2 separate regions of the Homo sapiens genome follow, and region 2 is linked to region 1. The links come from fine-mapping of genetic effects on gene expression. A gene starts in region 1. The other region holds a variant in brackets. All regions are shown on one strand. Distances are between the middles of the regions.

The links. PIP is the estimated chance that this variant, and not a neighbour inherited with it, causes the effect.
Region 2: its variant is fine-mapped to the expression of GOLGA3 in hippocampus (GTEx, PIP above 0.99).

The regions. Positions count from the first base shown.
Region 1 is chr12:132,826,515-132,831,887 of GRCh38, reverse strand. It overlaps GOLGA3 (golgin A3), which reads left to right and starts at 3,019. Exons shown (of 24, transcript NM_001389683.1): 1 at 3,019-3,085. RefSeq lists silencers at 2,502-2,711, 3,082-3,141, 3,642-3,741 and an enhancer at 2,792-2,931.
Region 2 is chr12:132,773,716-132,779,024 of GRCh38, reverse strand. It overlaps GOLGA3 (golgin A3), which reads left to right. Exons shown (of 24, transcript NM_001389683.1): 19 at 1,220-1,359; 20 at 1,935-2,067; 21 at 2,269-2,391; 22 at 3,720-3,884; 23 at 4,705-4,868. Among named protein-coding and RNA genes, the nearest start is that of ANKLE2, 15 kb to the right of the region's middle. The variant T/G (reference allele first, on the strand shown) is at 2,909.

The sequences.
Region 1 (5,373 bases):
TGGCGTGGGTGGTCCACGGTTTGTTTCACCATGTCAGAGTGGCGTGGGGGGTCCATGGTTTGTTTCACCATGTCAGAGGACATTTTGGTTGTTTCCAGTTTGGGGTCAGTAATGTACAGGCTTTTGTGTAGACATAAGTTTATTTCTCTGAGTTCAATGTCTAGGAATGCAGTTGCTGGGTCATAAAATTGTTTACTTTTTGAAGAAACTGCCCAACTATATTCCAGAGTGGGTGCACTATTGCTGTTCCCATCAGCAATGTATAAGAGATTAGTTACTCCAGAATACATTATTCCCAGCATTTCATATTGCCACTGCTGTATATTATTTCAGCTGTTCTAATAGGTGTATACTAATATCCCAAGGCAGTCTTTTTTTTTTTTTTTTTTTGAGACAGAGTCTGACTGTGTCACCCAGGCTGGAGTGCAATGGTGTGATCCCAGCTCACTGCAGCCTCCACCTCCCAGGTTCAAGCGATTCTCCTGCCTCAGCCTCCCAAGTAGTTGGTATTACAGGTACCTGCCACCATGCCCAGCTAATTTTTGTATTTTTAGTAGAAGCAGGATTTCACCATGTTAGTCAGGCTGGTCTCGAACTCCTGACCTCAGGTGATCCACCTGCTTCGGCCTCTCAAAGTGCTGGAATTACAGGCTTGAGCCACCGCGCCTGACCTCAAGATAGTCTTAATGTGCATTTCTGTAATGGCTAGTGATGCTGAACCTGGTCACAAGCTTATTTGCCACTCATATATCCTTTTAGTGAAATGTGTTTTCATGTTTTTTGCTTGTCTTCTGTTTGTGTGTGTGTATGGTTTTTTTTTTTTTGAGATGGAGTCTCATTTTGTCACCCAGGTTGGAGTGCAGTGACACAATCTCAGCTCACTGCAACCTCCGCCTCCCAGATTCAAGCAATTCTTGTGCCTCAGCCACCCAAATAGCTGGCATTACAGGTGTGCGTCACCACGCCTGGCTAATTTTTGTATTTTTAGTAGAGACAGGGTTTCTCCATGTTGGCCAGGCTGGTCTCAAACTCCTGGCCTCAAGTGATTTGCCCCCTTAGCCTCCCAAAGTGCTGAGATTACAGGCATGAGCCATTGTGCCCAGAATAATTGTATTTTTTTTTACTGTCAAGTTTTGAGAGTTCTTTATATATTCTAGCTACTAGTCCTTCAACAAACGTGGTTTGAAAATATTTTCTCACAGTCTGTAACTCATCTTTTCATCCTCTTAATGTGGTCTTTCTCACAAGGTTGGTTTGTTTGTTTTGAGATGGAGTCTCGCTCTGTCGCCCAGGCTGGAGTGCAGTGGCACGATCTCAGCTCACTGCAACCTCTGCCTCCCAGGTTCAAGTGATCCCCCTGCCTCAGCCTCCCGAGTAGTTGGGACTACAGGCACACACCACCACGCCCAGCTAATTTTTTTGTATTTTTCATAGAGACAGGGTTCACCATGTTGGCCAGGATAGTCTTGATCTCTTGACCTTGTGATCCACCTGCCTCGGCCTCTCAAGGTGCTGGAATTACAGGCGTGAGACACTGTGCCCGGCTTTTTTTTTTTTTTTTGAGACGGAGTCTTGCTCTGTTGCCCAGGCTGGTGGCACGATCTCCGCTCACTGCAACCTCTCCGCCTCCTGGATTCAAGCGATTCTCCTCCAGCCTCCTGAGTAGCTGGGATTACAGGCACATGCCACCATGCCCGGCTAATTATTATATTTTTAGTAGAGATGGGTTTCACCATTTGGCCTGGCTGGTCTCAAACTCCTGACCTCAGGTAATCCGCCCACCTTGGCCTCCCAAAGTGTTGGGATTACAGGCGTGAGCCACCGCATCCGGTGAAAAGTTTCTAATTTTTTCATGAAGTTTACTCTATCAACTTCTTTTGTGAATTGTGTTTTTTTGGTCAGATCTAAGAACTCTTCCCCAAGCTCTAGATGTGAGAAATTCTGTTTTCTTCTAAAAGTTGTATATTTTACGCCTCAGTCTGATCATTTTGTGTTAGAATTTGCATTTGCAGATAACATGATGGCCCATGTAAAAAATACAAGGATTTTACAACAACAACCGCAAAACACCAAATGAACCCTCAAACTAATGAGTTCAGCGAGGTCTCAGGATAAGAAAATCAACATAGAATTCATCACATTTGTGTAGACCAACAGTGAACACGTGGAAAACGTCAAAAACGCAGTGTTACAGTTGTTTGATGTGAAATACTATAAACTTAAAAGGTGCAGAATCTGTATGCTGAAATTACAAAATGCTGGTGGAAGAAATCAAAAGACCGAAATAAATGGAGGGGCCACCAGGGACGCAGATGAAGGACCGAGTCAGCGATGCCCGTGCTCCCCAAACGATCTGCAGCAGTTCCCATCAAAATCCCAGAAAACTTCGTAGACTGAAGCGTATTCCAAAATCCGCAGAGATGAGCGCAACATCACAGAGGACCCCGAGGCGCCCTCCAGGCCATTTCCTTCCTGACAGCTGGAAGAGCGGCCTGGCGGATGAGGGAAGGTGGAAAGCCGTTCCCCAGCGGCCAGCGGCCCGCGCCGTCCAGCTTTGCCCTTTTTAAAGGGGAAGCAAATAGGGTCCAAAGCAGCGTCGCCTTTGATCTGGCACCTGAAGCGCGAAGGGCGCCGGCCGGGTGGAGGTGCGGGGTTGGGGCGGGGACCCGACTAGGGCGGGCGGGGAAGTCACGCCCACACCGAGCTCGGCCGCGCCCATGCCGAGCCCCGGCCACGCCACTTCCGCCGGAAGCTCGGTTCAGCTTCCTGAAAGAGTTGGTCCTGCAGTTCCGGAAGTTGCGTTTCTACTAGGGAAAGGTCCGCAAACTCTTAAGGTCACTTTCTGAAGGCGGCCTCATCACAGTCGGAGGTGAGCTCGATCCGGACCCTGTGGGCAGAGGGTCCCCGGCCCTAGGGTGGCCACTTGAAGAAGAGGAGGACGTTCTCTGTTCCGGAACGAAAGTAGCGCGTGCAGGCTGTTTCCGGGGACCCGAGGCCGATGCACCGCTCGCCCCGCCCCTCTCACGGCCACGTCTCCGCCGGAGCATCCGGGCCGGGCGGCCTCCGGGGCTGCCAGAGCAGCAGGGTGAGGGGCTCGGAGGCCGCGGCGCCTCGGGGCTCGGGCTCCCGCTCCCGCTCCCGCTCCCGCAGTGCATGGGCGGGGGAGGCTCGAGGGGCGGCGGCGGGGCCTGGGCGCGTCCCTGCAGCGTGGCGGGACGGCCCCGTTCCAGTCACCCCCGCCTCGCTGCGGTGGCCTCGGGCCTGGGCGCCCGCCTTCAGCTGCGGCGGAGCTGGCTCTGTAAATGCCGGTGCCCGCGAGCCCTCCTGAATGCTTGTCTGCGCCCGACGAGCGCGGCCTGTCCCGAAGCTGTCCACTGCCACCACTCGGGCAGTGCTTGCTTTAGCCTGGCCCTTTGCAGCTGAAAGGCGTGACATGGTGTCGGGTGGTTCGTGGGAAGTCGGGGTTTCAGGAGTCCGTGTACTTCCTTGTTTGTCTTTGTCGCTGGCCGACTTGTCTTCATTCCAGGTGGCCAGAGCGAGTGGGGCCGGGCGTTGTCACGGGTATGAACCCGACGAATGTCAGTCGTGTGGCGGGTCCTGGGTATTGTGGGTCTGGGTCACTGCCCCCGCGGAGCCCACCTAGGACAGGGACACCCAGGGTCGCCAGCGAGAGGGTACCGGGCGGTGGTTGGGTGGGGTCCGCTACTCTAAGTGGGAGCCTGGGGGGCGGGCGACTTCCGTGCTAAGGCCTCTATGACGAGAAGCAAGCCAGGCAAAATTGTGAGAAAAGCGCGCCTCAGGCAGAAAGTTTGAAGACCCTGAGGGCGGAGGATGTGGCCACAGTGTAATGGCAAAGGGGGAAAGCGATGGCGGTAAGGATGTTGGTGTAGGCAGGTGCTGGATTCTTAAGAGGTTGGAGTTTATTGTCACTGGGCCAGTGTAAGCCATTTACAGATGACTCATGGATTTTTTTTTTTTTTTTAAGAGACTGGGTGTGTTGCTGTATTGCCCAGGCTGGTGTGGAACTCCTGGCCTCAAGCGATCCTCCCACCCCAGCCTCCCAAAGTGCTGGTGTTACAGGTGTGAGCAGCCACACCCGTCGTCGTGGATTATTTTGAACTGTCTTTTAAACGACATCAACATAGCGCTTTATAACCCTTTAATATCTTTTCAGGCAGTATACCTTAAATGGCAAGAAGGAAATAAATCATCTGACATCACTCAGATTGAAGAGGAGCTTTTTTTCCCCCGATTGCCTTAAGAAGTAGCATACTTTCCCAAGTGAGAATGCCTTCAGTTGGCTTTTAGCGATTTTGACAAGCAACAACTAAAGGGAAAATCGTGATAATTACTGTCATTTTATTGAGGACACGGGACAGACTCTGTGCCTTGTTATATTTAATCCTGGCAAAATTTTGCGTTCATTTTCTCATTGTTTTACTGGTGAGGAAACAGGCTAAATGTGATTAAGAAATCTTTAGCCCAGGCTCTCACAGGTAAGTGGTGGAGGGTCGGGAGCTGAGGCCGGAGTCCTGACTTCCAAGCCTGCCCTTCACGTCTCTGCAGTGACATGAGGCTTGCTTGCTTTTGGTTTTCACTTTGTGTATAGATCTGTGTTTACTTTTGGATACTAGTGTGGCCTCCACCAGGTACTCTTTTCCTGAGGAAATCGTGTTTGGTTTTTGGCTGTGCTCTGTTGTTTCTAATACCCGATAGGAACAGGTGAAACGAGGTGGTGTAGATGGAGCCGTGAATGTTTGTATACAGAATTCAGGTGTGGGGGAAGCAGAAAGTCCTGTAGGTGCCTGAGGTGGTGGTTTCTCAGTATGAAGTCCCTTGATGTTACCCAGCTGTGAACCTAGGGTTGTGTGTACCTTTCGCAGTTCTAAGTGACAGCTTTGTCCTGTCTCTTCTCTCTAGAGACGCAGGAGTGCGAGTGATCATAAGTGAGACTGATTAGACTGGCCTCTTTATTTAAAATAGAGCCATGTTTGTAGTACCAGCTTTCTGTGATGCACTGGCAGTTGCTCCTCCTCCTCGCTGCCCGGAGATCGCTTTTTGTCAGTAGTCTGAGGTAATGAGGCCCTGACGACTGAGTCATTCCAAATTTTAACTAAAAATCAAGCAAGACTGGGAATCGACCGAGACTGCCAGCTTATTGCCCTACAGGGAGAAGTATCACTGTCACCAAACTCCAGGCAGTTAGTGAATTCTCTCTCTGGTCCGGCTTCAGGAGGAGCTGCCTGTAAAGAGGGGCCGTCTTTGTGACTTACAGTCACCGTCATGGGGTCTCTGTTCTGGAGAGGTGGGCTGCTTGGACACCAGCAGGGGAATTAAGTGAGCAGAATCTGTGATTGCACTGGACTCAGCTCG
Region 2 (5,309 bases), 53 kb after region 1:
GCCCGGCCGTTTAACCCTGGCCTGGGGCCTGCTGCTGGGCCGTGGTTCAGGCTGGCTCACACGGTGCCCCAGCTCTCCAGCTTTCGCTCCGTGCTTAGGGTTCACTGAATTTTTTTCGGTTTTTTTTTTTTCAGACGGAGTCTCACTTTGTCACCAGGCTGGAGTGCAGTGGCTTAATCTTGGTTCACTGTAACCTCTGCCTCCCGGGTTCAAGTGATTCTCCTGCCTCAGCCTCCCCAGTAGCTGGAACTACAGGCGTGCACCACCATGCCTGGCTAATTTTTTGTATTTTAGTAGAGATGGGGTTTCACCATATTAGCCAGGATGGTCTCAATCTCCTGACCTGATGACCTGCCCGCCTTGGCCTTCCAATTAATTTTATTTTTATTTTTTAAATGTATTTATTTTATTTTATTATTTTTATTTATTTATTTGTTTATTTTTTTGAGATTTTGAGATGGAGTCTCGCTCTGTCGCCCAGGCCGGAGTGCAGTGGCGCGATCTCGGCTCACTGCAAGCTCCACCTCCCGGGTTCACGCCATTCTCCTGCCTCAGCCTCCTGAGTAGCTGGGACTACAGGTGCCCGCCACCACGCCTGGCTAATTTTTTGTATTTTTAGTAGAGACGGGGTTTCCCCGTGTTAGCCAGGATAGTCTCGATCTGACCTCGTGATCCACCCGCCTCGGCCTCCCACAGTGCTGGGATTACAGGCGTGAGCCGCCACGCCTGGCCTATTTATTTCATTTTTGGGACCGGGTCTCACTCTGTCACCCCAGCTGGAGTGCAGTGGCGCGATCACAGCTCCCCTGCAGCCTGGAACTCCTGAGCTCAAGTGATCCTTCCACCTCAGCCTCCTGAGTACCTGGGACCACCATGCCCTGCTAATTTTTTTATTTTTTGTGGAGACAGGGTCTTGCTATGTTGTCCAGGCTGTGAATACACTGGAAGAAGACTATAAAAACTATTTAGACCGAGAAATCTCGAATAAATGTGTTCATTCAACAGATAGCAGCAGCCACATAAGTGTGCACTTGCTGCGTGCCGAGCTCCGGGTCAGGTGGTTTCATCTTTACAAGGAACTTGACAGGCCTGTGGAGAAGCACACGCCGGCAGCCAGGACATGCACGGGGCCGGGAGTGCATTCACCCCCTGCGCCCGGCACGTCATAAAGCTGTGGGTGTCACGCAGGGCATGGACAACGTGGCTTCCTTCCTCCTAGGTGGCTGCTGCCAAGGTGGAAGCCGGGCATAACCGCCGCCACTTCAAGGCGGCCTCCTTGGAGCTGAGTGAGGTGAAGAAGGAGCTGCAGGCCAAGGAACACCTGGTGCAGAAGCTGCAGGCCGAGGCCGACGACCTTCAGTGAGTGCCTGGGCCCCGCCAGCCCTCAAACATGGCTGTCCTGGCAATGGGCGGGGTCTAATTCACACCTTCAGCACAGCGAGGGTCATCTATATTTTGCAAATTGCCGAGTACTTGAGTGAATCATAGGAGTAGAAGGCACCCAGCCTCCGTCTCCAGAATCCTGAGCCTCACTCACTGCCCCGTGTCCTCCCCCCAAGAGAGAAAGCGCCCCAGCAGGAGTACTTAGCTTCAGGTCAGAGGCGGGAAGGGGCGGCCCGGCGCGGGGCTGATGCTGTGGCTCTGTGGGTCCCATGCACTGTGGTCTCGGGGCCGGCACTCTCTGGGATCTGTGAGGGGTGCCGGCAAAGTGAGTCTCTGGGATCTGTGAGGGGTGCCAGTGAAGTGTGAGTCTCAGGTGCTTCGTGAGGACTGCCCGAGTGCACACTGTGGGCACCAAGCATGGCTGCAGCACGCAGTGCACAGCAGAGGGCCTGCCAGGACGAACGCCTTCCACAGGCAGCATTTCCCAGCGGGAGGGCACAGCACACTGGAGGAGCGTGGCGATTCCCTTCTTTCTTGTTTTTTTACGCTAGGATTCGGGAGGGGAAACATTCCCAGGAGATAGCACAGTTCCAAGCAGAGCTGGCCGAGGCCCGGGCACAGCTCCAGCTCCTGCAGAAGCAGCTGGACGAGCAGCTCAGCAAACAGCCCGTGGGAAACCAAGAGGTGACGGTTCACGGGGGCTGGACTTGCAGGGCTGGACTCACGGGTGCCCTGGGTGACTTCACTCCATCCTGCTTGGGGAGCAACAGTGATGGTTTTCTGAATATGGTATTAAAAGATAAACCAAAACACAGCTAGAGCCATTTTCCAGGGCAGTAAAGCCACTTTAATATTCTTTTGGCCATGTGACTTTCCCCTCTTTAGATGGAAAATCTCAAATGGGAGGTGGATCAGAAAGAAAGAGAAATCCAGTCCTTGAAGCAGCAGCTGGACTTGACGGAGCAGCAGGGCAGGAAGGAACTGGAAGGGCTACAGCAGCTGCTGCAGGTACCTGTGTGTGAGGCGCTGGGCACAGGCGGGAGCAGCAGGGAGGAAGGAGCTGGAGGGGCTACAGCAGCTGCTGCGGGTACCTGTGTGTGAGGCGCTGGGCACAGGCGGGAGCAGCAGGGAGGAAGGAACTGGAGGGGCTACAGCAGCTGCTGCGGGTACCTGTGTGTGAGGCGCTGGGTACAGGCGGGAGCAGCAGGGAGGAAGGAGCTGGAGGGGCTACAGCAGCTGCTGCGGGTACCTGTGTGAGGCTCTGGGTACAGGCGGGAGCAGCAGGGAGGAAGGAGCTGGAGGGGCTACAGCAGCTGCTGCAGGTACCTGTATCTGAGGCGCTGGGCACAGGCGGGAGCAGCAGGGCAGGAAGGAGCTGGAGGGGCTACAGCAGCTGCTGCAGGTACCTGTGTATGAGGTGCTGGACACAGGCGGGAGCAGCAGGGAGGAAGGAGCTGGAGGGGCTACAGCAGCTGCTGCAGGTACCTGTGTATGAGGTGCTGGACACAGGCGGGAGCACCACTTC[T/G]GGGGCAGCCCCTGGTTCCTGTGCCATGCGGCCTGCGGCCAGGCAGTGCTCCCGGGGAGCTGGCGCCCTCGTCCAGTGGGGCGCTCGCAAAGCCACCTGGTCCACGTCATGCGGCAGGACAGAGGCAGGGGCGAAGCCTGGGCCGGCTCCGATCCCTTGGCCGCGCTGTGTGTCACGGACCAAGAACGTGATTTCATGGACTACAGCAAATGGGAGGGTGCGTGGGAAAAGTTTGCCAATTTGCGATAAACTTCTCAACAAAGAACTCAGGGTTCGGTCTTGACTGCTCGGGAAAGGAGTGTAATTGCTAAGTTCCCCTTGTAAATGAGGGGCTTGAGTTACAGTGAGAATTTATTTATAGACACAGGCCGACAAGCGTCCATCATCCAGAAATCCAAAACCTGGCCAGGCCTGGTGGCTCACACCTGTAGTCCCAGCACTTAGGCAGTGAGCTGTGGTTGGACCACTGCACTCCAGCCTGGATGACAGAGTGAGACCCTGTGTCTAAAAAAAACAAGAACAAAAATCCAAAATCTGAAACTTTCTGAGCATCAACATGATAAAGGAAATGATCATTGGAACATTTCAAATTTTTGGATTGTGGATACTCAGCTGGTAGTTGTAACGCAAATATTCAAAATTCCAAAATTTGACACACTTCTGGTCCTGAGCATTTTGGACCTGGACTGGCATCATCTAGATGGCGCCGAGGAGGACATGTGTGTGCTTAACCTATGAAAATACAAACTCGGATCTTGGCAGGATGTTTAAGATCTGTTAGCTTTTAAAAATCTGACTTCATTTTCCACAGAACGTCAAGTCTGAGTTGGAGATGGCCCAGGAAGACCTGTCCATGACCCAGAAGGATAAATTTATGCTCCAGGCAAAAGTGTCGGAGCTGAAGAACAACATGAAGACCCTGCTCCAGCAGAACCAGCAGCTCAAGCTGGACCTACGCCGCGGCGCGGCCAAGACGGTACTCAGGCCCGCGTCCCTCCCGGGGTAGCCGACGTGCGCTGTAGATGCTCTCGGACAGGAGGCTGGCAGACGTGTTAGTCATTCAGACATAAACGGATTTGTTGAGCCCACACTGAGCAGCTGCTGTGTAGTCAGTGGTAATGGGGTGACAGATGAAATCATTTCATTCTGGTTTCATTCATCCAACAGTGTTTTCCTCGTTCTGTGAATTCAAATACCACTTTGTTGTAATGTGCTTTGTAAAGCAGATGAGCGGTGGTCTGTGACTCGGCAGTCCCTGCTGTGTGTGAAGGGCTGGGGCCCGGGAGCTGTGCCCAGGCGCCCGGCGGTTTTCTGTGCTCGGTCCACATCCATGTTTTCCAGGAGGCAGGTGGGAGGGCAGCGCTCGGATTGAGAGGCCGTTTAGCGTCGTGTGCTTATCTGTGGAAAAAGTTTGAAGTCCCAGAAAAGGGAGCCTAAGCTGGAAAACTTACTTAATTTCTTACGGAAATTCCACATCAAGGTCTTGAGTATCTGATGGGAGAAGCGTCTGGGAGAGCTGTAGTCTGTGGCTCGGCCCCGTCCTGCCGCAGACCCAGGACTTAGGTTGTCTCTGCTTTGCTCTGGTTTTGTGCCTTAGGAATAAAGGTGTTTCCTCAGCCAGCTATTCTGGAGCTCCGGGGACTGTCGTGCTGGGCTGCCACGGCGGCCAGGACGGTCCCCTTCCCAGAGGCCCCACGTCCACCAGTTGGGGAGGCCCGTTTGCCACAAGCTGTGCTAGTGAGACTGACCCGAGGGAGGGGACGGTGGGAAAGCTGATCATGTGCTTTTAAAAACAGAGAAAGGAGCCGAAAGGCGAGGCCAGCTCTTCCAACCCTGCCACGCCCATCAAGATCCCGGACTGCCCAGTTCCCGCCTCGCTGCTGGAGGAGCTGCTGAGACCACCGCCCGCCGTGAGCAAGGAGCCCCTCAAGAACCTGAACAGCTGCCTCCAGCAGCTCAAGTACGACCGTATTCCGTGCTGCACTTCAGCTAGTCTTAAAGATTAATGCCCTCTTACCTGGGAGGGCACTCCTGGTGCCAGTACTGAGTGCCCAGCAGAGTTTCAGCAGGTTTATATAAGGGTGGGGGACTCGCATACATAGCCTCTGAGGTTTATATAAGGGAGGGACTTGCACACACAGCCTTTGAGGTTTATATAAAGGGGGAAGGACTCAGCCTCTGAGGTTTATATAAAGGGGGAGGGGGACTCGCACAGCCTCTGTGGTTTATATAAAGGGGGAGGGACTCACAGCCTCTGCGGTTTATATAAAGGGGGAGGGGGACTCGCACAGCCTCTGAGGTTTATATAAAGGGGGAGGGGGACTCACACAGCCTCTGCGGTTTATATAAAGTGGGAGGGGGACTCGCACAGCCTCTGAGGTTTATATAAAGGTGGGGGAAC